Regions from separate parts of the Homo sapiens genome. Here all the other regions are linked to region 2. The links come from fine-mapping of genetic effects on gene expression. A gene starts in region 2. Each other region holds a variant in brackets. All regions are shown on one strand. Distances are from middle to middle.

Region 1 (2,755 bases), 240 kb after region 2:
GGCTCACTTCCGCTTCCCATGAAGGCTCCCACCTGGGATCCCCAAGGTCCAAGAGCCCTCTGGAGGGAGGACCTCTCCTAAAGGGCGGCAGCCTGGGATCATCAACCAGTCCATGAAATTTCCCTCCGAGCCCTTTACAGTTCACTGTGCCCTGATTTTACAGATGGGAAAACCAAGGCCCAGAGAGGGAAAGTGGTGTGCTCAAAGCCACACTGTGGATCAGGGGCGGGGCACGGTCTGGTGCCTGCCAGCGTCCTGCGTTTCTTCCCACACTGCAGTCAGGAGAGGGAGGTGGCCGGGCAACCCTGGATCTGCTGCCCTCGGGCAGTTAGGGGTGGGGAGGGAACTCCAATGGATGCTGTGCCCCTAGCAGCAGTGGCTGCTTCACATCCCGTCCTTGGCCAGTTGTTTTGAACAAGGTATGTTTTGCTAACTTTTTACCTGGGGATCTCCAAGCATGCGATGAATTCGGAGAATATGGTTGCTGGTTTCTGCACATTTTTTTCCCCTGTAGTCTGGCCTGTTTATCACGAGCTCTGCTAATCAGAATATTCAAGTGCATGCACATACACAGGCATACACGATGTGCAGGACGTTCTGGGGAATTTACTTTTCTGGGTAACTGAGGGTTAACTGGAAACCTGTGTTCTTATGCCTTATTGAAAATTTTTCTACAAATGATGAGCATTTCCCCAACTTAGTATTTTGAAAAGTTCCACCACTTTCTAAATATGTGACCTTGGTTGAGTTACCTAACCTCAGTAACCTCAGTTTCCTTATCTGTAAAATGTGCAGAGCAATGCCTCTCTAGGTAATGAAAGGAACTAGAAATAAAAGCAGTGCATAGCATACCGTGTGTGCTTTAGAAATGGAGCCATTGCTACTGCTATTAGGACTCTTATTACCTGGTCAAAGGATCGGGAGAGTCGACTGAGGATCTTTGTGGGGATTTGGGACTCGGGTTTGGATGCCGTTGCACATCTGGCATCCATCTGCAGTTTCTGTCCCAATTAAGTCCTCCCAAGGAGATAGTTTTCTTATGATTTGCTGCTTTCTCATAAAAGCCGCTGCAGCCGTGGGAGCTGCATGCAATGAACCAAGGACCTTTGGTCTGGAGCCCATACGTTCTCTTTGAGTTTGTTGTGCCTCCTCTGGGAAAGGGCCAGGGGATGAAGGGCAGGGCCTGGGCTCAGCCTTCCTGGGATTCTGTTCCACCCCACTCTGTGTCACGCATGCACCCTGCACACAGCTCAGGACCCACTCCCTTGCCAGAGGGCACGCCAGGAAAAAGACAGGGAAAGGGGCACCCCGGCCACTGAGAAGGCAGGAAGGGCACCCTGGGCTGGGGGAGAGCAGGACAGGCTCTGGATCCCCAGCAACTACAGGGAGATTGGGATAGCTGGGGAGGGGTCTGGGTCTTAGTCTTGGCCTGGTGCATTCTAGGAAACCCTTTCTTCCTTCCCTTCCTTCCTTCCTTCCTGCCTGCCTGCCTGCCTGCCTGCCTGCCTTCCTTCCTTCCTTCCCTCCATCCCTCCCTCCCTCCCTCCCTCCCTTTCCTTCCTTCCCTTTCATTCCTTCCTTCCTTTTTTTTTTTTTTT[G/TG]ATGGAGTCTCACTCTGTTGTCCAGGCTGGAGTGCAGTGGTGCTATCTTGGCTCGCTGCAGCCTCTGCCTCCTGGGTTCAAGCGATCCTCGTGCCTCAGCCTCCTGAGTAGCTGCCACTGCAGAAGCATGCGCCACCACACTCAGCTAATTTCTTTTTTTTTTTTTTTGGTATATTTTTAGTAGAGATGGGGTTTTACCATGTTGGCCAGGCTGGTCTCAAACTCCTGACCTCAAGTGATCGGCCCACCTTGGCCTCCCAAAGTGCTGGGATTACAGCTGTGAGCCACTGCGCCTGGTCCAAGAGGCAGCCTTTTCTGACCCACCCCCAGATAGATCCAGATTGAAGAGTTGAGGAGCTGCCTGGAAGTGGGGAGCCCACGGGACTCCCAGCTCCATGAAACTGCTCCTGCTGGCTGTGGAGGGGGAGGAAGCAGCCACAGATGGGGAGGGTGGCAACCAGGCACCTACCCCTGCAGGGCCGCTGCCTTGCCCCCACAGGTGTAGCACTATCCGCCCAGGGATGAGGCCTGGGTGCCTGCTGGTGCCCTGTGTCAGAGGTACAGTCCTGTGAAAGGGCATGGAGTTCAGAGTCAGATCAACCCCAGCCCTGTCCCTTACTGGATGGCCTTGGGCAGCCCACTTAGATCTCTGGGCCTCACTCTCCTTACCTGTAAAATGGAAATACTTACCTTTGGGTGATGATATGAAGATGCAATGAGACTAGTGTGTGAAAAGTCAGCCTGGTGCAGTCCCTAGGCTTACAACCTGCCTCCTGCCCTTTGCTCAGGGCTGCTGAGAGGAGCACCTGGTGCTGGGCTGGACAGAGCCTTGTAGACTGAGGGTAGAGCATTGTAGGCTTTGGTTTCTGGGATGGGGGCAAAGGCTATCTCTAGACCACATCTGTATGCAGTCCCTCCTCGTTCTCGCTCCAGCTCAGTCTGTCCCTGCCTCTCACTTCTCTCTCTTCTTCCCCATAGCCTGCCCCAGGCCCCCAGCCTTCATACGGAGACCTGCCACGCTGGCACAGGGCCTGCAATAGGATGAGGAAGTGCTTGCTTTGATGTCCCACTCCCCTTAGACTCACTTTTGTCCACCTGGAGACAGCATCCTGGGGCACATAGAGGCCCACCATGGTGCCTGAGCTCCTGCACACCCA
Region 2 (2,755 bases):
TATCTACAATATTGGACTGCTCGTCTTCGAACACCGGGATGCGAGTATAGCCGCTTTCCATTATCTCCGACATGGTGTTGAAGTCCAGGATGGCATCGCTGCGGATCATGAAGCAGTCCTGGAGCTGGGTCATGATATCCTCTACAGTTTTGGTCCGTAGTTCCAGGGCACCCTGGATCATATTGAGCTCCTCTTTCACGAGGTCATTATAGGGCTCCGTCACCTTCAACATCTCCATCAGCTTCTCCCGGTTGTAAACAGTGCGAATCTCCTGGCCCAGAAAAAAGTCCAGGAGCTTGCTAATGGGAAAACTGAGGGGGAAGGTGAGTAGCATAAAGAATTTGGTGAGAAGGATGGTGTTGGCACCCACAGCCAGCCCATGTCGGGAGCACAGGGCCTGAGGTAGGATCTCCCCAAAGATGACAATGCCAATGGTGGAGGAGGCCACCGCCATGAGGCCGGACCCGATGAGGTTGTCTAGAAGGATTGTGAGGGAGGTGTTGACCAGCACGTTCCCTAGGAGCAACGAGCAGAGAAGGTAGTTGCCCTTGCGCCGGATGGGCTCAATCTTGCGGGCATAGCGCCTCTCCTTCTCGGTGCCACAGTTCTGCACGATGCGCAGCTCCATGGGGTCCAGGGCCATAAGCCCGAGGTTGAGGCCAGAAAATATGCCCGACAGCACCAGCAGCACCGTAATTAGGAGAATGTGCAGCCAGAGAGGCAGGAACCTCCCAGGCTCCTCCACCATGAAGAGCAGTGAGTCCTTGTCCGTCCACTTCAGCCAGGGCCCGTCGGGCTGGGCCCGGGTGCACAGTGCATACAGCTTCATGCTCTCGCTCCTCCGGAGGAACTTGGTGAGCACCACCAGCACGCCGGACGTGTTCCCGCGGCTCACGTTGACCAGCTGCTGGACGACCAGGTCCTTGGTGAGCTCGAGGCAGCTGGTGGACTTGTGGAGGGTCTCGGCATCGTCCACCTCGGTGAAGGAGATCAGGTTGCTGGAGATGTTGCCCAGGCTGTAGCCGTACAGCCTCAGGTTCACGGTGCTGCCCTCGGACACGAAGATGATGCCATCCGGGTTCGTCCCACACGACTTGTTGCAGCTCGCCAGCCTCATGCCCACGATCGTGCCCTGCTGGGGGCTGCCCTGGCCCCGGGCCCCCAGCGCCCACAGCAGCACCAGCAGCACCGGCGCCGCCAGGAGGAGGCGCCCGCGGGCCGGTCCGCCGACCGGGCGCCCGCCCCCGCCCACCGGCGCCATGTTGCTCTGGCTCTGCCGCCGCCGCCGCTCCCCGCGCCACGCCGCGCGGCCCCGGTCCGCACCGCAGCTCCGGCCGCTCCGCTGCCGCCGAGCCAACTGCCCGGGCCGCGAGCCTGACGTCAGGTCAGCGCCCCGCCCGCCCCGCCCCGCCTGCCCACGCCCCTCATTTGCATTGGAGGCCCCGCCCCCGGGGCTCGCTGCTTGAGCGCCCGCCCTTAAGGGGGTACAGTCGCTTAAGGTGGAGCAGCGCCGCCGCGCGAGAGCCGCCAGCGGGTACCCGCCCAGTGCTCCGCCTCCGCGCCCTTCCCCGCCTTTCTCTGCCAGTGGGGCCAGCTCTCCTTCTCCGGGACCTGGTCTCCTAGCTACGCCGTTCCTGTTCCTCGGCCTCGCACGGCCGCACGTGGGAGGCTCCTCTCCCGTCCCTCACCTGCAGCTAGGGGTGGCCCGCTCTGCAGGCAGGGCGAGAAAAGTGCTTTTCCTGATGTAGAAAAAGAAAAAGGAAACCTGAGGGCTTAGGCTGGCATTGCAGCCTGCCCCTTGGAGACTTTTCTGGCCTCCTCACTGCTGAGATTTTTGCCGACCTTGTCCTAAGGCCAGAAGTAGGTTACCCCAGCCCCAGCCCCAGCCCGACGATGCTTCCATCAACCAGTGGCTGCCTGATGTGGAAGGCAAATCTGGGGAACTAAGGTTATAGAAGGGGCAGGCTCTGGCCTAGACTTCTCTCCTGTCTCTTCCATTTAGGCATAGATATTTATTGAACACCTACTTTGTACCAGGCACTTGTTCTAGGCTCTGACAATAGAGCAGTGAACAAGCCAAAGTCGCTGCCCATTGGGGTTTACAGTCTAGAACAGAAAACAGGAGATAAACAAGTAAACACATATATTCATTAAATCCCCCCAACAACCCTCAGAGTTAGTAGAATTATTTCCATTTAGAGATGCAGAAATTGAGCCGAGACAAAAATCCTGGTGCCTCCATACTGTCATCTCCCAGCCCATTTCTCCATCTGTAAATGGGGGTAAGAATGACAGAGCATTACTTCGCTAAGCTTGCGGGATTGTGGACCTAGACATTGAACATGACAGGACAGCTCTTTAGAATATTCTTTGGCTAGGTAGTAGTTGTTGCTACCTGCCTTCCAGGACCAAACTCCTAACCCCAAATTGTGGTGATTGATCAGCTGGGCAGCTGCTTGTGGACATGAGCAGGCAGGCGCGGCAGTGGGCCTATCCCTGAAATGACTGCTTCCTGAATGGCCCTAGCCCTGTGTCAGTAGGGTGTATAAGGAAGACCACAGCTGCCCGCCCTGTGAGGGGGAAGAAGACAGACAGATAAACATCCTTACAATAATTGCACAGGTGCACAGAGAAGATCAGGTACTGGGTTGACCACCAGGTCTCACAGCAAATCTTTTGCCAGTACTGAAGACACAGAACCCACTTTACTCCCTTCCCGCACTGACACTTGTATTTATTTTCATTTTGGTGTAAT
Region 3 (2,755 bases), 75 kb after region 2:
TAAGTGAATGGCATGGAGTTCTGTTCTGCCCTCCAGAGTGGGGTGGCTCCACCCTGGGAGCCATGAAGCAGAGAGGGTGGGAGTGCCTCACAGAGGGAGTAGCAGGGATGTTGACAATGGGACTGATGGACATTCCTTGTGTGCTTGTTATGGGCTGGCACTGTGCCAGTTGCCCAGTGTGCATCATAGTCCTGGATCCTCACACCCCACCATGAGAGGGCATGGTGATTGCCAGGCCCATTCTACAGAGCAGCATGCTGAGGGCTGGGCATGGCCAGGAGTTGGCCTAGGGCCACACAGAGCCAGGATTCATGTCTCAGGGGCTCTTGCGGGATGCGAAGGACTCTGGTGGTCATGGAAGGAGCCTTGCGTGTTGGTGGAGAGGGCAAAGGGCAGGTACAGTTGGGGCCAGGAAAGCCCAGAGTGTCCTTACTGTTGAGAGTATGGGCCAGAGAGAATGGATGCAGGAACAGGGGCCAGGGGCCAGGTGGCAAGGCGGCACCTTCTCCAGGAGGCAGTGGGGAGCCAGGGAGTCTCTGAAGGGGGAGGGAGTGGCCCCCACGTCCCCCCAGGGAGGATTAGAAGCAGGGAGGCCACTGTCACAGCCAGGGGTGGGGGTGGTGGTCAGGGTGTTTAGTCTTATTTATAGCTTGCATCTGATATGATGGGCTGGTACCAAACCTTATAGACATTAAATATTTTGGAGATCACCCCGTCACGGTCCAGGGAAGAGATGACAAGGGGCTGGACCAAATGGTGGCCATGAGGATGATAGAGGAGGTGGATTTGTTTTCTGTTTTTTTTTTTTTTTTTTTTTTTTGAGACGGAGTCTCGCTCTGTCACCCAGGCTGGAACAGTGTCACGATCTCAGCTCACTGCAACCTCCGTCTCCCAGGTTCAAGCGATTCTCCTGCCTCAGCCTCCCATGTAGCTAGGATTACAAGCATGCGCCACCATGCCCAGCTAATTTTTTTGTATTTTTAGTGGAGACGGGGTTTCACCAAGTTGGTCAGGCTGGGTCTCAAACTCCTGACCTCAGGTGATCCACCCGCCTCAGCCTCCCAAAGTGCTGGGATTACCTGTGAGCCACCGTGCCCAGCGAGGAGGTGGATTTGGGGAACATTTAGGAGGTACATGGACTTGGCATCACCCAACATGCTGACAGCCACAGACCCCTCTCTTCCTCTGGGGACTGTTTCAACCCCATTCCATGTGGTTAAGGGACCAGGAAAACAGGCCCCATAGGGGCTGCCCTGCGAGTTCAGGGGGCTCCCCTGGGGGCATTTCTCAGCCCTGTCCTCCCCTGAGGAGTCCCTGATTCCCACCTGTAGGAAGAGTGTCTGTATCTTCCCACAGAGCCTGCCGGAGTGCAGAGCCCCTGCCGGGGAGAAGAGGACGGAGTGGGCAGGCACCTGTGCATAGGCCACTCGCTGCTCCTTGGCCACCAGCCAAATCATCACGTCAGGGAGGCCCATCTGGGGCTGCCGAGGTGGGAGAATGTCAGGCCCTGCGCGGCTGGCTCCCAGCCCTGCTGCAGGCCAGTGTGTGCAGCACCCACCTCAGGGAGCACGG[T/C]GTTGAGGCGGTACAGCCAGTCCTCCGCTGTGGCCACCATGTCCTTGGGCTTGGCTTGCTTGGCCTTTTGGGCCAGTTCCTGCAGGAGGAGGCTGCGGAGCTGCCACCTCTTCCTGTCCAGGCTGGTGGCTTTGGGCTGATAGGTCATGCAGGGCAGAGGGCGCCTGTGGCCAGGACAGGGTAGCAGGGGCTGGACCTCTCTACTGCCTCCCAGTGTCACCATTCCTGCCCTGCCTTAGGCCAGCGTGCCCCTCCTGGCCTCAAGATCCTGCCCCCATCTGCTGCTAGCCTGGCCCAGGAGCCCTTCCCACTGCTCCATAGGAAGCCTGCTCGCTGTGTGTCCAGCCCTGGGTTCTCATCCAGTCCTCTCCCTTCCTCCCAGGGCCTGCAGGGAGGTGGGGCTATGTGGGCTTGTCTGGAGGAAGAGGACAGGCTGGCTTAAGAGGAGCCTCGGGTGTGGGTGTGGGGTAGCAGGGACCATTCTGATGGGGCGGTCAGGGGGCCTGAATGGGAAGGGAGAAGCGACTCTTGGGGTTTCCCGCTGGGGAGAGGTCTGAGCAGTGCTCCTCCCCGAGGAGGGCGGGGGGAGGTGTTCAGGGCACTGCGCTGAGTCCCCAGGCCCAGATCTGGCTCAGCTCCAGGCCAGCTGTATCCCGGAGTGCCCCTACTCCTACTTGCAGTCCTCTGCCAGCTCCCTCAGCAGTTTCTCCCACTGGTAGAGGAGAGCTGGATCCTTCGGATTCCGCGTGGATTTCAGGGTGTCCAGGTTGGCTTTCTGCCCAGCAGGAGAGAAATGGTGAGAGAGCCCGCCTCAGCATGGAGCCCAGCTGGACAGGCCACAGGGCTGATTGGCCCAAGATGTTTTCAGCCACGACCTTGGGAACTTTGAGGGATAACCTGGTGATATCAGTTCAAGGTTGTCCACAACTCCGAGGCTAGGAACCCCCCACATCCTTCCTGCTTCCCAACAGAAGAAACAGGTGGCAAGAAGCCGGGATGGGGTAAGACTGGGAAAGCAGTGCAGAGCCCTGACCTCCACATAGGCATGAGAAAGTCATGCCAGAGGTGCCAGCCCCAGGTGGCTCCCGAGAACTACACTCCCAACAGGCACTTGAGACAGTTTCTGATCTCACTCCTTCCAGCTTCTATGGTCTTATCTTCATGTCACCTCCATGCCTCCCCC

The links. PIP is the estimated chance that this variant, and not a neighbour inherited with it, causes the effect.
Region 1: its variant is fine-mapped to the expression of CNNM4 in whole blood (INTERVAL, PIP 0.93).
Region 3: its variant is fine-mapped to the expression of CNNM4 in monocytes (TOPMed, PIP 0.98).

The regions. Positions count from the first base shown.
Region 1 is chr2:96,522,378-96,525,132 of GRCh38, reverse strand. No RefSeq gene overlaps it. Among named protein-coding and RNA genes, the nearest start is that of ARID5A, 13 kb to the left of the region's middle. RefSeq lists an enhancer at 266-785. The variant G/TG (reference allele first, on the strand shown) is at 1,599.
Region 2 is chr2:96,759,506-96,762,260 of GRCh38, reverse strand. CNNM4 (cyclin and CBS domain divalent metal cation transport mediator 4) reads right to left here and starts at 1,359. Exons shown (of 7, transcript NM_020184.4): 1 at 1-1,359. The coding sequence starts at 1,261. RefSeq lists enhancers at 134-722, 602-851, 723-1,312, 1,872-1,921 and silencers at 815-998, 1,122-1,541.
Region 3 is chr2:96,684,921-96,687,675 of GRCh38, reverse strand. It overlaps FER1L5 (fer-1 like family member 5), which reads right to left. Exons shown (of 53, transcript NM_001293083.2): 21 at 2,247-2,347; 22 at 1,559-1,736; 23 at 1,326-1,481. Among named protein-coding and RNA genes, the nearest start is that of FER1L5, 44 kb to the right of the region's middle. RefSeq lists an enhancer at 1,033-1,758. The variant T/C (reference allele first, on the strand shown) is at 1,573.